Linked DNA regions of Homo sapiens. The protein of the gene in region 2 interacts with the protein of the main gene of each other region in a biochemical or structural test. Each region holds a gene or a part of one and is shown on either strand. Other genes may lie near its edges.

Region 1 (7,631 bases), on a different chromosome or scaffold from region 2:
TGAATCAACATGTTGCAGTCGGAGCCAGGACTCATACCACCCCAAGAGGCAGGAGGCAGCGCAGCCAGAAGGGCACTGAGGAGCCATGGCCACAGCTCCCTGTGGCTCCCAGCAGCGGGACCAGATGCAAACTTCCCACCCCACCACATGTCTGGGCTTCCTATACCCTGTTCAGTCTTTACTGAGTCAGAAGCTGTTTTAAGAGCTGAGCACACCCATTTTACAGCAGAGCTTCTTACGGAAAAGCGTGCTGCTGTCCTGGACCCTTTGTCCATCCTGGGCCATTGGGCCAGCTCCAGCCTCATCCTTGAATGGTGGGTGTACATCGCTGGGGTCCTTGCTAGATTATATTAGGGCCTCCACACACTTTAGTTGCTCTCCGTTTGCACAATGATTTCTATATCATTAGTACCTCTTTGTCCACTTGCCTAATTATTTCCTTAGGATAAATTCCTAAGAAATCAAATAGCTAGGTCAGTATATAGCACATTTTCACAGTTTGCTACTGACTAGAGATATTAAAGGTACAAAAACAGCCAGAATTAGATGTAGAGTCGCAAGGGAGTTTTGTTACTAAGACGTCATTTCTAATCAGGGAGAAAAAATGAGTTACGGAATAAACGGTATTGGAACAATAGGCTAGCCTTCTGGAGAAAAATAACCTCACTCCTTATACAAAAGTAAATCCCAGTGGAAGCCAAGATATTAAAAAAAGATTTAAAAAAGGAGGACAATTTTTATATGATCTTGATAAGGAGGAGGCCTTTCTAAGCACAGTACAAAATCAAGAAGTCATGAAATAAAAGGCTGATAAGTTTGACTCCATGAAAATTAAAATTTTCTATGGAAAAAAATACAATAAAGTCAAAAATCAATCAACAAACTGGAAAATAGATTTGCAACATACATAAGAGACAGCAGGCTAATTTTGGTATTATACATAAAAAGCTATTACAAATCATCAAACAAAAGCTCCACAGCCAAAATGAAAAAATGAAGAGACAGTTCAAAGACAAACAAATGTAGATAATTGTTTAACTTAAGGAAAGGTCAAAATATTTGGCAACTCTGTGTTGGCCTGGGTGTGACCATGAGCGGTAGTTGCCAGTGGTATTCACAAATATACCCTTTCTCCTCCTTCTGGGCACTTGGTGTGATTGCAGTTTCCTACATTTGACCTTAGGTGTGGTCATGTGTCTCGCTTAGGAGAAGGAAATGTGAACGGAAGTGTTGTGGGTCACTTTTGTGTGGAAGCTGCATGGAGTCACCTCTTTGCTTTCCGTCAGCCTCAGTGTTCAGCAATGTTCTGAATGATGGTTGCTTTATCAGTCTGGTTCTGGGGTGAGGGTAATGAAGTAGTGAAGCAAAGTCCTTGATGGACATGTGAGGTGAGACAGAAATAAACCTTTGACATTTCAAGCCCCTGAGATTTGGGGCGTGCATGTGCTGGAAGCAGAACCTAGCCTATTCTGATGGATTCCTCCAGCACTGCTCGTGGGAAGACATCATCAATATAGAGCATTCATGTGCCCTTTATCTCGAAATTCCACTTCCAGGAATTTATGAAACAGATACTCTCACATGTGCAAACAGCTATGGATAAGGACAGACATGGCAACTTGGATTGCAATAGCAAAAGACAGAAACAACCAACGGAAACACCAACCAATAGGAAATTGGCTAAAGACATTGTGAAACATACATAGAATGAAATAATCTGCAACCAGAAAAATAAGGCAGTAGATGTATGTGTACCAGTGTGGTTTTTATTCCGAGATTAGGGCTAGGTTAAGACGTCAGATTAAGTTGTCCCTCTCCACCCCACCAATATAAATAAAAAGTTAAAAGTAAATCATAAACTATTTTTACAATTTTAAAAAGTGGGTTAAAGAGCCCATCCAAGTAGTTTTATAAAAGTAGACTATCTCCGAAAAGATACCCAATAAATAGGTATATTACTTTCCTGGGGCTGTTATAACAAGTTTCTACAAATTTGCTGGCTTCAAATAACAAAAACGTATTCTCTTGCAGTTATGGAAGCCAGAAGTATGGAATGAAGGGTTGCAGGGTGGTGCCCTCTCCCAAAGCTCTAGGGGAGGAACATTCCTTGCTTCTTCCAGCTCCTTTGGGGGCTCCTGGCATTCCTTGGCTTATGTCGGCACAGCTCTAATCGGCGCCTCCATTGTTACATAGGTGTTTCTGTGTCTCAAGTATCTCTCCCCTTTCTCTTCTGATATCAGTCATTGGATTTAGGGACCATCCTAAACCCAGGATAATCTCCTCATGAGATCCTTAGGTCAATTACATCTGCAAAGATCTCATTTCCAAATAAGGTCACATTCAAAAGTACCAGGGGTTAGTCTTAGACTTATCTTTTTGGGGGACACGATTCAACCCACTACCGTGGGTAACAGTGGTTTTCCCTCAGAAGGTGGTGGTTCAGGAGTGGGAGGAAGATGAACTTTTCACTGTATATCCTTTCAAACTATTCACGTTTTAAAAAAAACATTTTCATGTAAATTTAAAAAAATTGAACATTCACACAAAAAGATGCCCCCTCCCTTGCAAAAAAGAGTATGCCCGTTCAAAATGTTGAAATGTACACTCACAGCAATGGTGGCTGCAGACTCCAAGTTTCTGAGGTTGGAGAAGGTAGCCAGGGAGCATAAAAGTGAGTTCTATCTACTCATTCAGTCTATGAGGGGAAGGCAATGGCTAGAAAAGCATTTTGAGGGACAGTAAAAGTGGCATTTTTAGAGGGAGGAAGCCTTGAGGATGCTTGTGGGGTGAAGGGAAAGAATAACTCAGGAAGAGGCATTTAGGGATAAGAGGAGGAGAGGAGATAGTGGAGGTAGGTGATCCCTGCGGAGGCCAGATTGGGGCAGGGGAGTGTCAGCTGAGTATAAGAGGATGGTCCCCTCTGCCCTGAAGGAGGAAGGCAGGAGGGGAAAAGGATGGGTGTTGACCCAGAAAGCACTTGTGGTGGAGGGGAGGCCCCAGAAGAGGCTTCTGACTTACCCTGATTGCTGGTACCTCTCAGGGGAGCTGGCTGCTTATTTGCTGGCCAGGGTGTGGGGGAACCCATTTGAGAAGAGGGAGAAGGTGACACAATTCCTTTGGGCAACTTATGGGAGGGGTAATTGGTGAGGGATGAAAGCCCTGCCAAGTGGCAGGAGGCCCAGCTGGGGCTGCCCCTCATAAGAGTGCAGTGGAGGATATGGGATGAGAAGTGACTGCCCCTCTGGTTCCATCTGTCGCAGAGCCCAGGGTGCTTCCTTCCTCCCCCACCTCCCTCAGAACACACCCACTGCATGCTGGACAGCAGCCCCCTTCCTGGGCCTGGGGACATCCATGTCCCTCTGTGCACAGGCTTCATCATTCTCTGGGTGCACGGTAACGACCCCGGTAGGTGAGAGGCCAAGGTCCCAAAGGGGAGCAGCAGGGAAAGTTAGCTCCCATCTATTCTTGCTCCAGGGGAGGCCTTTGATGAGGAAGCTGCCAAAAGCACATTGCAAATACAATTCCAATTACAGGCAACAGGAAGGAGAACCACCTCTGCCACCTCTGTCAGCAAACCATGAGCTCCTACTCTGTGCTGCGATGGCGGGCTCGATGGGGATAACTCTGACCTTACCTCATGGAGTCACTGTCAACCCACTGGTTGCACTGTCTTTGTGCACTGGCTCTCTGGAGTGAGGTCTTTGCAAACAAAGTGGAAAGAGCATCAACTTTGGACTCCAGCACCTAGATTCAGAGCAGGCCATTTCACTCGGAATCTGCTGTGCATCTGCAAGGGAGGATCATAAATTCGCCTTTGTTTCTTCCCAGTATCGACAGCCCTTCCAGAAAGAGCAAGCCTCATGTCATGCCACATGTACAATCTGAGGCCAGGAGCTCTCTTTCCCCTTTTCATCCTCCTGCCTGGTACACAATAGGTGTTTACTGGATGCTTGTCCAGTTGATTTCTTGAACATGGTGTGTAAAAGGAATCTTTGCAAATTGAATCTTCTGGAAAGCTGAGCTTGTGCCTACCATAGAATTCTGAATGTACCTATATGACGTCTTTGCAAACTTAAAACCTGAATCTTTGTAGTATAAATCCCTTGAAATGCATGTAGGCTGGACATCAAAAGCAAGCAATCTCTTCAAGGAGCAGCTAGTTGGTAAGGTCAGTGTGCAGGGTGCATAAAGGGCAGAGGCCGGAGGGGGTCCAGGCTAAGTTTAGAAGGCTGCCAGGTTAAGGCCAGTGGAAAGAATTCGGTGGGCAGCGAGGAGTCCACAGTAGGATTGATTCAGAAGTCTCACTGGTCAGCAGGAGACAAGGTGGACCCAGGAAACACTGAAAAGGTGGGCCCGGCAGAACTTGGAGTCTGGCATCCCACGCAGGGTGAGAGGCGGGAGAGGAGGAGCCCCTAGGGCGCCGGCCTGCCTTCCAGCCCAGTTAGGATTTGGGAGTTTTTTCTTCCCTCTGCGCGTAATCTGACGCTGTTTGGGGAGGGCGAGGCCGAAACCTGATCCTCCAGTCCGGGGGTTCCGTTAATGTTTAATCAGATAGGATCGTCCGATGGGGCTCTGGTGGCGTGATCTGCGCGCCCCAGGCGTCAAGCACCCACACCCTAGAAGGTTTCCGCAGCGACGTCGAGGCGCTCATGGTTGCAGGCGGGCGCCGCCGTTCAGTTCAGGGTCTGAGCCTGGAGGAGTGAGCCAGGCAGTGAGACTGGCTCGGGCGGGCCGGGACGCGTCGTTGCAGCAGCGGCTCCCAGCTCCCAGCCAGGATTCCGCGCGCCCCTTCACGCGCCCTGCTCCTGAACTTCAGCTCCTGCACAGTCCTCCCCACCGCAAGGCTCAAGGCGCCGCCGGCGTGGACCGCGCACGGCCTCTAGGTCTCCTCGCCAGGACAGCAACCTCTCCCCTGGCCCTCATGGGCACCGTCAGCTCCAGGCGGTCCTGGTGGCCGCTGCCACTGCTGCTGCTGCTGCTGCTGCTCCTGGGTCCCGCGGGCGCCCGTGCGCAGGAGGACGAGGACGGCGACTACGAGGAGCTGGTGCTAGCCTTGCGTTCCGAGGAGGACGGCCTGGCCGAAGCACCCGAGCACGGAACCACAGCCACCTTCCACCGCTGCGCCAAGGTGCGGGTGTAGGGATGGGAGGCCGGGGCGAACCCGCAGCCGGGACGGTGCGGTGCTGTTTCCTCTCGGGCCTCAGTTTCCCCCCATGTAAGAGAGGAAGTGGAGTGCAGGTCGCCGAGGGCTCTTCGCTTGGCACGATCTTGGGGACTGCAGGCAAGGCGGCGGGGGAGGACGGGTAGTGGGGAGCACGGTGGAGAGCGGGGACGGCCGGCTCTTTGGGGACTTGCTGGGGCGTGCGGCTGCGCTATTCAGTGGGAAGGTTCGCGGGGTTGGGAGACCCGGAGGCCGAGGAAGGGCGAGCAGAGCACTGCCAGGATATCCTGCCCAGATTTCCCAGTTTCTGCCTCGCCGCGGCACAGGTGGGTGAAGGAGTGAATGCCTGGAACGTACTGGGAACTGCACCAGGCACAGAGAAAGCGGGCTTGCCATTATAGTGGGTTCCGATTTGGTTTGGAAAACATGGGCAGCGGAGGGTGGAGGGCCTGGAGAGAAGGCCCTACCCGAGACAGGGGCGGGGTGGGAAGGACGGCAGATGCTGGGAGCACGAGGCAATTTCTTTATGACACAGAACTCATGCTCTAGTATTCCATCTGTTTCAGCCGAAGAAAAGAACCAGCTGAAGGGGCAGGGGAGAAGGGGCGGAGGTATTCTCGAGGCCCATTGGCGTCCTTTAGGACTCAGGCAGGGAAGGGCCCTTGGTGCTCTGGAGCCGGAGGTGGTGCGCCTGGTACTGGGACCCCGGAGCTGAGCCCGGCGCCTCAGCCCACCTGGCTGTCTGCCGACCGTGTGCGGGGCGAGTTTGCTCAACAACTCTGCCAGCTTCTGGCCCTCAGGCTGTGGGAAGCTTCTTCCCGGGGCGAGACCACTAGCTTTTTCTAAGTATTACCAGCCCAGGACTTGGCTGAGGTTCTGTGTCCCCCAGCTTGGAGTCAGATGTGGGGTTGAATCTTGGCTTCCTCTCACTAGCTGTGGTGCTTGACAAGTCACTTATCCTTGAGCCTCCATTGCCTAATCTTTAAAAGGGAGGTGACAATCGTCCCTACGGCTCAGTGGCAGCAGATGGGGAGATGAAGGGAAAGTTCTGTTGACCATGAGTGAACTTACAATGCAAGCCCCGGGGGGATCACTTGCAGTTTTGTCCCTGTCTGCAGTGTGACCTGTTGGTGACATTGTCTTTGCTCCAAACCACAGCTCCTGGGGCAGAGGGGAAAATTCTGCCACTCACAGCTGCCTGCCCACGCTTCTGTCTGAGTGTGCTGGGTGGCAGGATGGCAAGTCCTTACTCAGCTCAGTATAGCCCTCTTCCTTGTTCCCTGAGCCTTTGACTTTCTCGAGGGATGTTGTGGGGTTGTGGCCAGGATAAGAAAGGGCATTTCAAGTTACCACTGCTCCAAAACAACTGTTCTGGAAATAGTGAGTACCCCATCCTGAGAGGTGAGTAAGCAGAGGCTGTATGACCACCTGAACCAAGCCCTTGAGGATGTTTCTTCTCTGGTGGAAGTTTGGAACAGGAGCCTCCTCAAGTTCATTTATTCATTCATTCAATGGTTATTTTGTGGGAATCGAATTTAGAATGAAAATATTTTTTGGCAAGCAGAAAATAATTTTTAGACCAATCCTTTTCTTTTAGTCATGAGAAACTGAGGCCCAGAGAGAGGAGGTCACCCCAGGTGCATTAGAACTGGGTTTCCAGAACTGACACTCCACTGCACAGAGTACTCTCCCAATTCATTCAATTTTTATTTAGCGGAAGGCATTTTCAGATGGGTCTTTGAAGCATTAGTAGGAGTTCAGCGATGATGGTGTCATGAGAATTTTATTCTAGGATTAGGAGGTACCATGAACAAAGATACAGAGCTGGGAAAACCAGAGGTGGAAGATAAGGAGCACATGTCCACAGTTCTTTTTCTTTTTTTTTTGAGATGGAGTTTCGCTCTTGTTGCCCAGGCTGGAGTGCAATGGTGCAGTCTCAGCTCACTGCAACATCTGTCTCCCGGGTTCAAGTGGTTCTCCTGCCTCAGCCTCCCAAGAAGCTGGGATTACAGGTACCTGCCACCACGCCCGGCTAATTTTTGTATTTTTAGTAGAGAAGGGGTTTCACCACGTTGGCCAGGCTAGTCGCAAACTCCTGACCTCCTCAGTGGATCCGAGGAGGTGATCCTCCCGCCTCAGCCTCCCAAAGTGCTCGAATTACAGGTGTGAGCCACCACGCCTGGCCTCCACAGTTCTTTATCCACCGTCTGAAATGTAAAATGTTACGAAAACCAAAAGTTTTTTTTGTGATTTATTTGATGGTAGCACCTGACGTGAACTGACATGAGATTATTTTTAATTTAGTTGTGTGAATATGCATATTCATATATTTTGCTGCATAGATTACAGTATGCAGCTCCAGATTCTTCCAAGCAGACTCTGATTGCCCATTACTGCCTTTCTAAAATCCAAACAAGTTCTGAGGTTCAAAACCGTTTTGGCCCTAAGGCTTTGGGTAAAGGGGGTGGAC
Region 2 (7,081 bases):
GCTGGGCTGGGAGCTGGGCCATGGGTCCACCTGCCTGTACCCGACACCCCAGGCAGTGGGTCCACCCAGCCCATCTCCAGCACCCCGGGCAGTGGGTCCATCCCACCCATCTCCAGCACCCCAGGCAGTGGGTCCATCCCACCCATCTCCAGCACCCCAGGCAGTGGGTCCACCCCACCCATCTCCAGCATCCCGGGCAGTGGGTCCACCCTGCCCATCTCCAGCACCTCAGGCAGTGGGTCCACCCTGCCCATCTCCAGCACCCCGGGCAGTGGGTCCATCCCACCCATCTCCAGCACCCCAGGCAGTGGGTCCACCCTGCCTATCTCCAGCACCTCAGGCAGTGGGTCCACCCCACCCATCTCCAGCACCCCAGTCAGTGGGTCCACCCTGCCTATCTCCAGCACCTCAGGCAGTGGGTCCACCCTGCCTATCTCCAGCACCCCAGTCAGTGGGTCCACCCCGCCTATCTCCAACACCCCGGGCAGTGGGTCCACCCAGCCCCATCTCCAGCACCCCAGGCAGTGGGTCCACACTGCCTATCTCCAGCACCCGGGCAGTGGGTCCACCCAGCCCCATCTCCAGCACCCCAGGCAGTGGGTCCACACTGCCTATCTCCAGCACCTCAGGCAGTGGGTCCACCCCGGGCATCTCCAGCACCCCAGGCAGTGTGTCCACCCAGCCCATCTCCAGCATCCTGGGCAGTGGGTCCACCCAGCCCCATCTCCAGCACCCCAGGCAGTGGGTCCACCCTGCCCATCTCCAGCACCCCGGGCAGTGGGTCCACCCAGCCCATCTCCAGCACCCCGGGCAGTGGGTCCACCCTGCCCATCTCCAGCACCCCAGGCAGTGGGTCCACCCCGCCTGTCCCCAGCCCTGTATGTGGGGTCCTGGCCTCTGGCCTGGGGAAGGGTCCTGGGCAGCCGAGTTGAGATGGCTCCAGGGAGCGTCAGCCCACAGTTTAGCTATTGAAGTGCCCAAAGTCCATCTCTCTGAGGCCTCCGAGCCTGGGAATGGACGTCCTCCTGCCCGAGTTACTCGCCTCCATGCTTTGCTTATTAGGGGTCACCCTCCCTGGTAACCAGGGTCTCACAGCGCCGCCCAAGACCCCCCGTGGCAGGCCAGCAGCGGCCGCAGAGGCCGCCTATCCCCCGCTGGCTGGCTCCAGGTACCGCGTGCAGGCAGAGGCCCATCTATTCTGCACGGTCCTGCTCTTCCTACCAGCAGCCTCTCCTGGCCTCCGTTTCCCAGGTAACACCAGCTCTGCCGGGACTTGGTCTGCAGCATTCCTGTGCCTCGGAGGTCCCACTCCCGGGGCGGCCCTCCCTCCTGGTTGGGGCCTGGGGCCGCCCTCTGCATCTGGCTCTGAGATGGGCCTTTGCGACATTCCCATCCCTCCACTGGAGGGTCTGCTCCCCCCGTCCCCAGGGTCTCAGGTGGGCTGCAGGTAGCTGGGAGGTGGCCGGCCCTTCCCTGGGTGTGCAGGGGCGAGGACAGGCTCACCCTCTTCCATTGTCTAAGTGGATGATGAACGTTTCATTCCCAAACTTCTCAAAAGTCTCGTAGTGGTGACGGTCCATGTTTCCTGCGGAGAGAGGCAGAAAGTGTCACAGCTCGTGGGGAGCCGGGCCACGTAGCTCAGAGGCCTCTGTGCTCTGCAGAGCGGCGTCTCCTCCTGCCAGCGTGACCTCTAAGCAATCTGGCCCCTTCACAGGCCACAGGACCGCAGCCGGGCCGTGCCACGGAGTGTGCCCTGCAGAGCCCTGCGTGCATCCGCTCCACGCAAGGCGAGTGACACGGGGACCCCGTGCCCCTGCGGGACGTACCCATGAGGAAGTCGAAGATCGTCATGTCCATGACGTCCAGGATGCGGTGGCTGCTGTCGTAGGGCGGTGTCTGCTTCACCTCCTCGCAGTAGTCAGGGTCCACCTCCCACCTGCGGGGAGCCAGCGTGAGACGGGGGGCCCAGGCCAGATTCTGGGGAGCCCGGCGCGTGCCATGAGGAGCAGAAGAGAAACACTGCGGCAGGGACCTTGGCGTCTGCAGATGGACCCGCCCGGGCTGCGGCGCTGAGGCTGCATTAGCGGGAGCACGGGTGTGGGAGGGGACGGAGCCGCTCTGCCCTGCCTCGGGGTGACCCCACCTGGAGCTGCCTTCACCTCTGGGCCCCGTGTTTTTTGCAGAGTCTCTGTGGGGAAACAGGACCTGGACTACACACTCACGAGGACAACGTGGGGCGGAAAGAACAGGGGCCGTTTCTCCCGCAGGAGTGAGGAGAGGGACGGGGCGAGAGCAGAGCTCAAACGCTGAGAGGCCCCGATTCGAGGGACCTGGTGGGCAGGCCGGCCCGGGTCAGGGAAGCACATGGAAATACTGGAGTAAGGACGCCCTCTGCCACCGTCTCATCAGGAAGCGGTCATCTCACACAGGCCAGCATCGCACAGCAGGCTCTGCACCCATCTCTGCCACCCCCGTGGGCGCCGACCCTCCCATGCCCGCCCAGGCCCAGCTCCCTCTGCCGTAGGGTGGCCGGACGCCAGCCCCCCGGCCCCGCACTCACTCGGCCTTCTTGCGCTTGTGGTAGGAACGCCGCCAAGGGTTCCGCCAGGTCTTCCTCTTGGCCAGGGACAGGTCGGGCAGGAAGGCCGCCAGCGAGCCCTCGATCTGGTCTGGCTTCCCGCACAGGGCGTGCTCCGTGGAGCAGTAGTAGGAACACTCGCCGTAGAAGCAGATGTTGTTGGCTGGGGAGGGACAGGCTGCGGGTTACCAGGGCCGCACAGGGCTGCGTCCTCACCTGTGGTCTCACGGCCCCCAAGGCCGGGCCGGGCTCTGCCTGGTGCTTCTCATGGGCAGGACTCACCCACAGTTCCCCATCAATCCCAGCAAACACCTCCACCCCACGGTACAGAAAAATGAACCCACAGAGCTGACGTCCCGAGGCCACACAGCTCCCCAGAGGCAGAGCCCGGCCTGAACCCTCGAAAATCAGGGGCTGGTCTATGGAAACCCTAGGGCCAACATTTAGTCTTTTAAAAAATGCATTCATATTGTCAAGAAAGTGAAGATACAATCCACAGAATGGTAGAAAACGTTTGCAAACCGCACATCTGAGGATCTAGCATTTAGAGTGTATGAAGAACTCTCATCACTCAATCACAAAAAGACAAAAAAAACTAATAAATGGGCAGAGGGCTTGAACAGCTGATTCTCCAAAGACGACCCTGATGGCCGACAAGCATGAGAAGAGACGGGCGCCATCGTGAGTCACCGGGGAGATGCAAATCAAAGCCACGGTGAGGCACCATCTCCTGTCTGCTGGGATGGCTTCCATCAAAAGAGCAGCTGCCGGCTGGGACGGGGGAACCGCCACCTCTGTGCGCTGCTGGCGGGGGGTGCACACGGCACAGCCACGGCGGAAACGGTCTGCAGCCCCCAACTGATTAAACACAGTGTTTCCACGTGACCCAGGAACTCCCCTCCCATGTAAACCCCTAAGAGAAGAGAAAACATTTCTATACAAAAACTCAGACACGAATGCTCACAGCAGCACCGCTCACCACAGCCGAAAAAGAGAGAATCCACCCAAATGTCCATCAAGAGAGGAGTGGACACGCCAGGTGAACATGGTCCATCCGTGCGATGACACGAAACGAAATGAAACAAGAAGAGGAATGAAGCCCTCACTGAACCCGAGAACCCTGTGCTCCGCGAAGGAGGCCAGACAGAGGAGGCCACACGTCGTATGACCCTCTTAATATGAAACGCCCAGAACAGGCAAATCCAGATAGACTGGGGGTGGGACGCTGCTCGTCGAGGGCTGCGGGGTGAGGAACGGTGACCGCCTGCTCATGGTACGGGGCTCCTTTTTGGGGTCAGCAGGACATTCTGGATTTAGACAGTGGTGATGGTTGCACACCATTGTGGATATACTAAAAACCACGGAACTGTACGCTTTTAAATGGTAAATTTTGTGGTACATGAATTATACCTTAATAAAGAAAGAATAATCAGAAAAATGCAAGCGCTGTCCAGGCCCGCTAGCAGTGCGGGTTCACTGCTCTGATGCTGGAGGCCCGGCCGACGGCGCTATTCCTGTATTTATTTGCTGATTAAATCTAGTTTTTCTTGCTTTATTTGTTTGTGGAGAAACTCTGGAAAGCCTGGGGCTGTAGAACTGGTGAGAACGTGGTTTTGTTGGGGCCGGAGCCCCGAACCTCACTCACAGCTCCCCCAGTCCCAGCATTCCTATGCAGCCAGGCTGAGTGATTCCAGGGGTCTCTCCTGGCTGCAGGGCAGGCTCCCCGTGGGATCAGAAGGCAGGTTCGGCAGGGCGCTTCCCAGCGGAGTGAACAGGAGGGTGGCCGGTCCCGGCTGCCCTTTCTTAGCTGAACAAGCTGAGGTTCGGAGAGGAAACGGGGTGGGTGCCAGGCCGACCTGGCCCCCACCACACCCCACGCACCCGGCAGGTCCCGGCTGGTCTGGTTCCAACGCCCCGATCACCTGCCTGCCCCCTCCTTCCCGCGCCCCCTCACCCCACTGCCAACGCTGGGTCATTATTGTAAGAACGAACGATCAAGGAAAGACCAGCTGCAATCCTGTCTCGTGCTGATACAGATTAGTCGGCAGCCCACAGTCGGACGAGGCAGCCCCCACCGGGGCAGGAGCTCCATTTCAGGAGGAAAATCTTCATCTGAGCGCTCATTGGCTGGAGGCTTAAAATTCGTCTGCTGTTAACAGCCTCCCGTCCTCGCCTAAGCCGGTTTCAGATGGTATCGTGTTAAAAGAGAAAGGCATTTCTCGGGCCCACAGCCATTTCTCTTTGCAGATCCAAATCGGGTATTAAAGGGGCCTCCCGGGCGGGGTTAGGAGGGCTTGGAGCTGTGTGACCTCAGGCAAGTGCCTCCCTGCTCTGTGCCCAGCCCCTCGCCCGGGAAGCGGGGGTCCCAGCAACGCCGGCATCACGGGCTGGGAATTACACAAAGAAGCCACGGGAGGCAGCTGTCCAGGTAACGAAGGCTGCCCTGCACTTGGAGTGGGGGCTTTCTGGGAGGAAGGAGCGTGAGTCCTTTTCCATTTTAGTAATAATAAAAGACACAAACAGCAAGGAGAAAGCCAGGGTAGCGGACAAACCCAGGAGAGATCCTGCCTCCTCCAGTCACCAGGAAATGGCATCACGGTTGGCCTCCCGGAGAGCGCAGACAGGCAAGAGTGTGGCTCCTGGCAAGGACGAAGATGGCTCCTTCACCCTGCGGCTCAAGCGTCTCCCACCATTCCTTTCGCTGACTGTGTCGGGGCTGACCCAGCAGGAGGAGCGTTTTGCAAGGCGGACGTCTGCCATCTGCCACCTTGGACAGCTGTGCCCTGGACAGCTGCGGGCCCGGCGGACACTGTTACTTAGGGCAGCGGCTCTGGGTGCCCGAACTGGGTCCATCGCTGGAAACGTGTCTCCTGCAACCTGCATTTAAGCTGGACGCAGCACTGGAGAGAGTCCTGAGGACCGCCCTGCCCAGCCCAGGCCACCGTGGCAGGAAAAAAGGCGAAGCGGATGATGGCAAAGCCCTTCTGTCCAGGCTGTGTCGGGCTGAGTGGCTTCCGGAGCTGCTGAGGACCTGGGCCTGGTCCTGGGGGCGCTCACCTTGCAGAAATGCAAAGCTGTGCACGGATGACCTGTGCACCTCTGGGACGTTTGCAACGTGCAGACGGTAACTTACGTGAGAAGTAGGGGAGTGTGTTCTGTGAGCGTTTGGGGCTTAGAAGATGTGGGCTCTGACTGCGGCCCGGCCCCTACACAGCTGTGCGGTGCTGGGGTCCTAATTGCCCTCTCTGAACCTGAGCTCCACAATCCCTACGTGGGGCAGGGGGCTGCCTGGGGCTCAGCCTCCTGCTTCTCCCTCCCAGAGCCCACCTTCCCCGAGCACTGGCCTTGGCCACCTCTCGCCCCCTCACCTTGTTCCTGGCTGATGGGATTTTCCCTTTTCTGATTGACCCCACGGGAGGGTCACTCAGGCCACGGGAGGCCGAGGGGGTGTCTGCAGTGGGCTCAGCCCTCCAATGTGCTCTGGGCTCCAGCAGGGCTTCCGAGACCACCTGGCATCCGTGGTTGGGAGGCCGAGGGGGTGTCTGCAGTGGGCTCAGCCCTCCAATGTGCTCTGGGCTCCAGCAGGGCCTCCGAGATGACCTGGCATCCTTGGTCGGAAGGCCGAGGGGGTGTCTACAGTGGGCTCAGCCCTCTGATGTGCCCTCGGCTCTGGCAGGGCCTCCGAGATGACCTGGCATCCTTGGTCGGGAGGCCGAGGGGGTGTCTACAGTGGGCTCAGCCCTCTGATGTGCCCTCGGCTCCGGCAGGGCCTCCGAGATGACCTGGCATCCTTGGTCGGGAGGCCGAGGGGGTGTCTACAGTGGGCTCAGCCCTCTGATGTGCCCTTGGCTCCGGCAGGGCCTCTGAGGTCACCTGGCATCTGTGGTTGGGAGACACATGCAAAGCAAAGTGGAGCAAACGAATCTGAACAGATTTTGTTCTCTAGGAGAGGAATCCGGGCTCCTGGGCCCCTGCTGCTTGAGAGAAAGTCAAATGCTCACAGAGGCTTCTGGAAGAAATCGGACTGACAGGGCAGCGCGGCTGGAGTGGCAGCAGTGGGGTTCCAGGGGCTGCGTTCAGGGGCGCCTGACAATGCTGGGCCTGGCTGCTCTGGGAGATTCAAGGACTCGTCTGTCCAGGCAGGGACATGGAACTGTTGGGGCCTCTGGTGGCCGAGGAAGTCTTGGATTTCAGGGGAGAAACTTGCGCTGCCCTGGAAAACGCAACTAATATCCAGAACCAGGAGTGGCCAGGGAAGCTGCTGGAGCGCTTAATAAAGTGCTGGCTCCAGGGAGACGTGAGAAGGGATTCCAGCAACGGCACCAAAGGTGGTCGATGGCCGCCTTGCAGCACAGAGCTCAGGGGCACTCCGGTGACCACCGTCCCTGGCCTGCTGAGGACCTGGGGATTCCAAGTGTCAGCCAACATGGGACATAGAGGTGACTTAATTCACCTGCTTGGACTAATAATCAACTCAGTCTTTTTTTTTTTTGAGACGGGGTC

Evidence for each region. The genes of interacting proteins can lie anywhere in the genome.
Region 1: of the proteins of FAM20C (region 2) and PCSK9, one has a biochemical effect on the other in vitro, tested with the Homo sapiens proteins (one study listed by IntAct).

The regions. Positions count from the first base shown.
Region 1 is NC_000001.11:55,034,917-55,042,547, forward strand, and holds the start of PCSK9 (proprotein convertase subtilisin/kexin type 9 isoform 1 preproprotein), read left to right. Parts: upstream 1-4,631; 5' UTR 4,632-4,921; coding exon 4,922-5,128; exon of another isoform or gene 5,129-5,487; intron 5,488-7,050; coding exon of another isoform or gene 7,051-7,173; intron 7,174-7,631.
Region 2 is NC_000007.14:251,509-258,589, reverse strand, and holds part of FAM20C (extracellular serine/threonine protein kinase FAM20C precursor), read right to left. Parts: intron 6,459-7,081; exon of another isoform or gene 5,947-6,458; intron 2,742-5,946; coding exon 2,561-2,741; intron 1,937-2,560; coding exon 1,827-1,936; intron 1,586-1,826; coding exon 1,504-1,585; intron 1-1,503. UniProt on the Homo sapiens protein: Golgi serine/threonine protein kinase that phosphorylates secretory pathway proteins within Ser-x-Glu/pSer motifs and plays a key role in biomineralization of bones and teeth.